2 linked regions of the Homo sapiens genome follow. The protein of the gene in region 1 purifies or fractionates together with the protein of each later gene. This does not show direct contact. Each region holds a gene or a part of one and is shown in the gene's direction. Other genes may lie near its edges.

Region 1 (3,600 bases):
CCGGGAGGCGGAGGTTGCAATGAGCCGTGATTGCGCCACTGCAGTCCAGCCTGGGTGACAGAGCAAGACTCCGCCTCAAAAAAACCAAAACAAAACAAACAACAAACAAAAACAGAAAAATGGGTGAAGCAGGACAAAACAGTGACATTAGAGCCAAAAGCAGGGGGTAGGCAATAACACCAAACATACAGCGTAGTCAAGGGCATCAGGGTCTGAGAAGAGGTTATAAAACTAGTTCTACGGACTGAATTGTGTTCCTCCAAAATGCTAATGTTGAAACCCTAACCCCTGGTATGGCTACATTTGGAGATTTTAGGAGGTAATTAAAGTTAAATAAGGTAGTAAGAGTGGGGCTCTAATCTGATAGGATTAGCGTCCTTACAAGAAGAGACATCAAGAGATCCCAGAGAGCATGTTATATACCCTCCCCGCACTGTGTGAGGACATGGTGAGATGGCAGCCATCTGCAAATCCGGCAGAGAGCCCTCACCTGTCTGCCTGCCACAAGTTAGGCAGATCCCTACCTTGCCAACACCTGGATCTTGGACTTCCTATACTCCAGAATTGTGAGAAATTAATGTCTGCTCTTTAAGCCATCAACCTGTGGTATTTTGTTATGGCAGCCTGAGCAGACTAATACAACCAGATATCTGGGAAATGCCATAAAATTTAGTGTTAAGACAATAATAAATCTGGAAATAGAGTTTTTCCACTTTTCAGTTGTATGGTCACATATTAGAATTGCAGATCCTAAGAAAACCTGTACAGAAAAACCCAAATCACAGAGTCATTTAAGTGTAAAGAAAAAGCCAATTATTGCTTAAAGAGTATTTGTAGAAAATATCCGTTGAATATAGAGGAATAACAGCATATTCATAAAAATTTTTTAAAAAGTGTGCACGACAGTGATTTTAACACTTCTAATCCAATGGAACTAACATTTTAAAGTACAATTATGGCCAGGCACGGTGCCTCATGCCCATAGTCCCGGCTACTTGAGAGGCTAAGGCACGTGGATCACTTGAGCCCAGGAGGTGGAGGCAGCAGTGAGCCCTGATCATGCCACTGCACTTCAGCCCAGGTGATGGTGTGAGACCCTGACTCTAAAAAATACAATTATGGTTACGGTTCTTGGGCAGAGTGGAATTCAAACAGGTTAACCTGAAAGATCAGTAGGGTTCTAAATCCAGGATAAATTATTTTCAGAAAAAGAATAACTTTTTGAATCTTTATTTAAATTGTTAAATGTTCCTGTGAGTAACACTCATCAGCGTGATTGTGACTGGTATGGCTGCATGGAAGCTTCCCTGTGGCATTAATCATAAAATGCTGGATTGGGGTTTGATTCTTCAAGGTATAAGAAGGACCTAGTCTCAAGTAATAGATTCACCAAAATGTAACACCACTAGCCCCCTCCCACCAAAATCTGCTCCAGTCAGAATTACCGTAAGAGCTCAGAAGTGACCTGTGCTTGGCGGCACCGGCCCACTTTCCCAGTGCCGGTTCCTCGCATCCTGGGCGCAGACGGGGTGACCGCCTGACCCCTGGACCCGAGTCACCTTTCCCTGCCCTGAGCTCCTCCTTGAGAGCTTCAAAACAATGCTCGCCCAGGCCGGAGGGCGAAGTCGGCCCATGTGTAAGTCAAGGGAACTGTCCCAGGACTGCAGCCCGGCCAGAAGACGCCCCGCGCCGCCGTCCCAGGCAGCCACCGCTGCCGCCGTGGCCCCCGCAGGCCGCCGTAGGCCCCCGCGGGCCGCCTGACCCCTGCGGGCCGCCGTAGAAGGACCCTCCAGAGGCCGCGCTCTTGAGATGGCCGTCGGGCTCCGCTCCCCGCGGCGCCCCGGCTGAGGGCCCGCCAGCGGGCACCTGGCGCCACCGCTGCGTTCCGGCACTAGCACGGGACACGGTCAGGGAGCGGCGGGCCGCGGCCTTGCGCGCGCCGTCTCTCGGGGCGGGGCACCGGGCCCCTTCCGGGGATGGGCCCCGGCGCCCGCGTCGGCCTGGCTGTGCCCGGCCCCTCCCCGCTCGGGCGGGCGCTGCGCCGTATCCCCGCCCGTCAGTCCGCCCGGCTCGGCTGGCCGCAGAAAGGGCCTGGGCGGCCGCACTGAGAGCTTTACGCCCGGAGGCGTCGGCGCTGCCACTGGCCCGCGACGGGAACGGGGCGAAAAGGCGGCGGCACCATGTTCTCCCTCAAGCCGCCCAAACCCACCTTCAGGTCCTACCTCCTGCCACCGCCCCAGGTAAACAACCCCTCCCCGCGAGCGCCCGACTCTCCTCTGCGCTTCCGTGGAGCCTCCAGGCCGACCCCCGGGAACTGGAGGACCCCAGGAGGCTGCGCGCGTCTCCCTGCCCACAGCAGCGCGGCTGCCTGATTCCCGGCGCCGCGAAATGCGCCTTCTCGGGAGCCCCCACTGGCTCGGCGAAAACTTGTAAAACTCTTCTGCAGCCATTCTCTGCCCGAAGTTCTGTCGTCCGTAGTTTTGCGGAGTGTTGAGGCCCAGGGGAGCCTTGGGAGCTGGGGTTTTCTTTAGTTTCCAACCCATCGACCCTCCCTCGTATGACCGCCAGCATGATTGCAGCGCTTGGGGTCACTGGTCGAGGCGGTTACCCGTCTGTCATAAATGTGAACACCTGGAAGCGACACTGGCAGTTTAAACATTTTTTATTATTAGGCTTCCAAGTCGATAATGAGCAGATCTTAAAAACAGCTCAGTTAATATGCGAAAGAATTTAAATGGGGGGCTGTGTGTCTTTCGCATGTGTCATCACTTAGAAAACAACATTTGCTGTAGCATTTTACGGAGGGTGGGGGGATTGAGATTTTGATTTATTTTGCTAATGTATTTCAGACTGACGATAAGATCAATTCGGAACCGAAGATTAAAAAACTGGAGCCAGTCCTTTTGCCAGGTAAACATTAGTTAGGATTCTAACAGATACTTTAGCAACGTATTTTGGTTTAAGATTATTCTGCCGACTAGTATCATGTGGTTAACTTCCCTTCTCTCATTAAACTTTCTCCAGTTAAAAGTCTAGTGACTGAGAGGAGAAAAAGGAACTGTCAAGAATGTCATTACCTCATTTCCTTTTTTGTCTCCCGAATTTCTTTTTGAAAAGATGTATATGTTTAATTGCTTGGGTAGTAAAAGTACTCTTTGCTGACGTGTTTGCCACTTATTGCATTAATGATTAATCATTTTAATGCATTTTGATAGTATAAAAAGACGCCTTTATTATGTGTGTGTCTCTATACCAATAACAGAGCTTAGTGAACTTTGAATTACTTGCTTGGCAATTGTTTTTTGAAGTTGTCAGCTGTATTTGCAAATTTGCTTGTTTCAGTTTAGAACCAGGCTTTTCCCAGCAGAGACACTTAATTGACATTTGGGGCCAGATAATTCATAGTTGGACGGGCAGGCTGTCCTGTGTATAGCAACAAAGATGGCCTCCACCCACTAGATGCCAGTAGTAGTACCCTTATCCCCCACCACCTAGTTGCGACCTAGTTGCCACACCAAAATGCCACCAGTCATTGCCAATTTTTTTTTGTCCCCTACCTCTGGGGGACAAAAATCTCACAGTTGAGAATCACTGCTTTAG
Region 2 (3,823 bases), on another chromosome or scaffold:
GTTATCCCTTAGTATCTGCAGGTTATTGGTTTCAGGACCCCCAAGGATAGTAAAAGCTAAAGATGCTCAAGTCTCTTAAATAAAATGGCATTAGTGTCTACATATAACCTATGCATACCCTCCTGTATACTTTAAATCAACTCTAGATTACTTATAATATCTAATACAATGTAAATGTTATGTAAATAGTTGTTATACTGTATTGTCTTCTATTTGTATTATTTTGTTTTTTACAATTTTTACAAATTTTTCAATCTGTGGTTGGTTGAATCTGAGGATATGGAACCAACTGTGATTAATTTTTCTTATATTTTAAAAAAGTTTTGGTTGGTGATGGTTTGAAAATTAAAAACAAAACACTGTTCCTTCTTGCAGATAGTTTGAGAAAAAACAGCCCAGATTATAAATTGAAAAATTAATAACTTTTGGTGAGGTCCCAAGTTAACCATGTTTTTTCATTTTCTTAGAGTTCATTAATTAATTAGAGTTCACTAATTAATTTCCAGCTGATATTCTTTGCTTGTGTTTTCACTCTGAGAAGTTACCATTTTACCAGTCAGGTTAGAAGTCAAGCAGTAAGTTCAGTGGAAAAACAAGTAATAATAAATCTACTTAGTGAGACCGTACTGTGCAACCGACTCTGCACAGAGAAAAACAACCTATTACGTAGATATTTTTATTCCCATTTTATTCCCATTTTAGAGATGTGAAACAACTTAACCACAGCACAGAGCAAGTGTAGAGACAGAACCGGGATTCCGATGAAGATCTGTCTGGTTCCAAAGTCTCTACACTTTTACTACACTGTTCTTTATTAATCACTAGATAGAACCATACACATATTGTTACATCAGGCAGAAGGTTTCGAGGGTTCTATTAACAAAGTGCTACGAATGAACTGGGTGGAAGAAAGTACATAGGTCTCCCATTCAAGGGTTCATCAGCCTTCACTAAGGAAATTTAAGTCAAAGTAGCTGACAGTGAGTCAGCATTTTGGAAGGCAGGTAGAGATGGTGAAGAAATAAGGAAATTCTTCTATGAGTCATGATAGATATTTAAGCTTGTTAAAAAATGTTTTTGACTACCTACTCCCTTTGCCTACAGAGTCCAGTTAAGGTATCTTAAAAATTATGGAAATAAAAACAATCGGTCGCTGTCTGTCCTCGCCAAACTCAAAAAAGGCTAAGCCTTTTGTGCTTAAACACATACTCATCAGTAACTATTCTACCTTACACTGAACATAACTAAGCTAGGTTGTTCTTCTTGGGAATGTACTTGCAAGTTAATACTGCACTGCAACTATAAGGTTTTTTAAAAGACATCAGTTGTACATTATAAATTAAATCTAGTTTAAATCAATATAATTCAATTTATCCTAGCAAGGAAGTTTTTTAAGGATGGTCTGATTTTTTTTTTACAGGAATAATCTTTGCATAATTTTACACCCCATACATGAGATGATTAGGATTCAATCTCAATCAGAAAAATCCCTTTATGGTGTCCTTATGGCTTTCCTGTATCCTAACAGAAAAATCCTAGCAGAAGCATTTCCCCTTTACCCAGTTCCTGTTCTCTTATCACAGTTCTATTCCTCCACACTCCCTTCCTGCTAGGCACGGGAATTTGAAAGGGCAGGGAAAAATCGGTGAAAGTTTGTCTTCTACTTGGGTAATCCAACACCACCGCATCCAGTAGTATATAATTCTTTTTGCATGTATATCAGATCCTCCCCAATCCCTCTCCCATACCTCTTTCTCACTTTTCTCTCATTATCCGGTCCTCTTGTTTTCCTTGACCCCCACATTCCTGTCTAAATCATCCTCCTGGCCTCAGGTCCTTATCGCCTTCCTGAGACCCTCATGTTTAGTGTTCCCTCATTCCTCTTACACCTAGGATTTCTCCTCCTTCCATAAGGGTCTGGTCCTTCATCCCTCCCGCTTCACCAGACCCCCTCACCCTGGGAGCCGCCACCTCCCTTTCCCCAAGACCAGATGTCGCGCGGCCGGACACAGCCAGCACGGAGAGTCGATGCCGGCGTCTGAGCTGCGCAGTGGGGTCTTCCCGCTGCCCAGCAGCCTACAGGCGCGGTGCACTCTGGGGGAACATGGCCGCTTCCGGTCTCCCTCCCGGGCCGGCGCTGGCCTGACTGCGGCCCCGGTCCGTAGCACTCCGCCCTCCGCTTCTCCCGCCCTGTAGCCGCGAAGACTGCTTCAGCCTTTCCCTGTGCTGCCCCTGCCGCGCGATGGAGAAGAGCTCGAGCTGCGAGAGTCTTGGCTCCCAGCCGGCGGCGGCTCGGCCGCCCAGCGTGGACTCCTTGTCCAGGTAACCAGGACGCCCAGGGCCCCGCCCAGCGTCCGAAGGGGATGGAGAGGGGCCGGGGACCTGCTGGATTGTTGCCCCAATTCGCGGATTCTGGTTTCTGAAGGCTACGCCGGAATTCCTTCCCCGGGACTTGGGAACCACTTCTGCCTCCCTCCCTGGGGCGTGGAGGCTGAGGAAAAGGAGGTTAAAACTCGCTGCTTCTTTATCGATTCCTCTACCTTTCATATTCCGATCTCGTTTTCTCCCCGATGGAGGTGGTCCCAGTTAATTACTTTCTCCTGTCTTTCATTCCCTCTCAAACCTTTTTTAAGACAGTTCCCCCCGCCCCCATTCTTTTCCCCACATTTCCTGTCTTTCTCTGTCACTTTTTCCAAAACCATCCTAAAGTCAGTCTTTCCTCCTCCACCCCTTCTTATGTCTTTGGTTTTTGGGTTCTTGCCCAGCCCTTTTCTCTCTTTTCATGGCTTCACCTTCTTAATTTCTTTCATGCTTTTCTCTACACTCTGATTTTCTTCTCGCCTCCCTTTTTGCTTAAATATGTAAATAAAAATGTCTCCTGTGCTTCTCTTTTCTAAATCTTCCAGCTGAAAGTCAGTATCAAGGAATCTGAGTGGTTTTTATCCCCAGTGATAGGTTTAAGAAAACAAAATGAGTGGTAGTTTTCTTCCTTCTTGGGCTACTGGTTCTCCACGTTGTCATTTCTCTTGTAACAGATGGGAATTTTATCCTGGAATTTTGAGGAGGACTTTATGCAGCTTTGCAGAGAGCTTTTATGAATATTAACTAGACGCGTTTTGGATGCAGTCTTTTTCTTTGATTTTAAAATAATGATTTAAAAATTTTTTAAAAAATAATATAAGACCTGTATTTGCTTTTTATGCAGCCACGATGAAATCTGGTTCTTTTCCACTGAATAATAGTCTAATTGTTATTAGAGAGTGATTCGATAACTGCTGTGTGAAAACACACAATTTTCATTTTCTCCTTCAATCAGTTGAAGTGGCTCTATTATAATTCATTTTGGATTCTGCTAAATATGGGTAGTTATTGCCTTTTTTCCTGTTGATGTTCAGCACCTCACTGGGGAACCACTGTCTGATCCCGTCATTCTACATTGCCATATGCACTCATAGCTCCCTGCACAGTCGTTTTTCAGAGTCTTTAATAAGCACACTATAATTGTTGGCTTAAAGTGCCTTTTCTACCAGGTTATAAGCTATTATACTTGAGGGCAATCTTAATCATCTTCATATCTCCAGCACTTAACATAGTCTCAGCATGTGATAGGTGCTCACTAAATGGTTTTTTTTTTTTCGAATTTGTAGCCTGAATTATCCAGGAAAGGAGGATTTTTCTTTGCAGTTTGATTATATATATTGCACGTTTGAATCAAGTATTTTTTGAATTCTGTATTTATTGCTTTGAAATTTGGAAAGCTGAGGATTAACATGTTCAGTTGTGTAATTCATTCAGAAAACAGGTTGGAAAATTCGAATTTTAT

Evidence for each region. The genes of interacting proteins can lie anywhere in the genome.
Region 2: the proteins of MTMR10 (region 1) and MTMR2 purify together in Homo sapiens (affinity purification with mass spectrometry; 5 studies listed by BioGRID and IntAct, with this or other methods). This does not show direct contact.

Annotation. Positions count from the first base shown.
Region 1 is NC_000015.10:30,990,087-30,993,686, reverse strand, and holds the start of MTMR10 (myotubularin-related protein 10), read left to right. Parts: upstream 1-2,058; 5' UTR 2,059-2,180; coding exon 2,181-2,240; intron 2,241-2,849; coding exon 2,850-2,910; intron 2,911-3,600.
Region 2 is NC_000011.10:95,922,374-95,926,196, reverse strand, and holds the start of MTMR2 (phosphatidylinositol-3,5-bisphosphate 3-phosphatase MTMR2), read left to right. Parts: upstream 1-2,089; 5' UTR 2,090-2,242; coding exon 2,243-2,322; intron 2,323-2,337; exon of another isoform or gene 2,338-2,505; intron 2,506-3,823. UniProt on the Homo sapiens protein: Lipid phosphatase that specifically dephosphorylates the D-3 position of phosphatidylinositol 3-phosphate and phosphatidylinositol 3,5-bisphosphate, generating phosphatidylinositol and phosphatidylinositol 5-phosphate.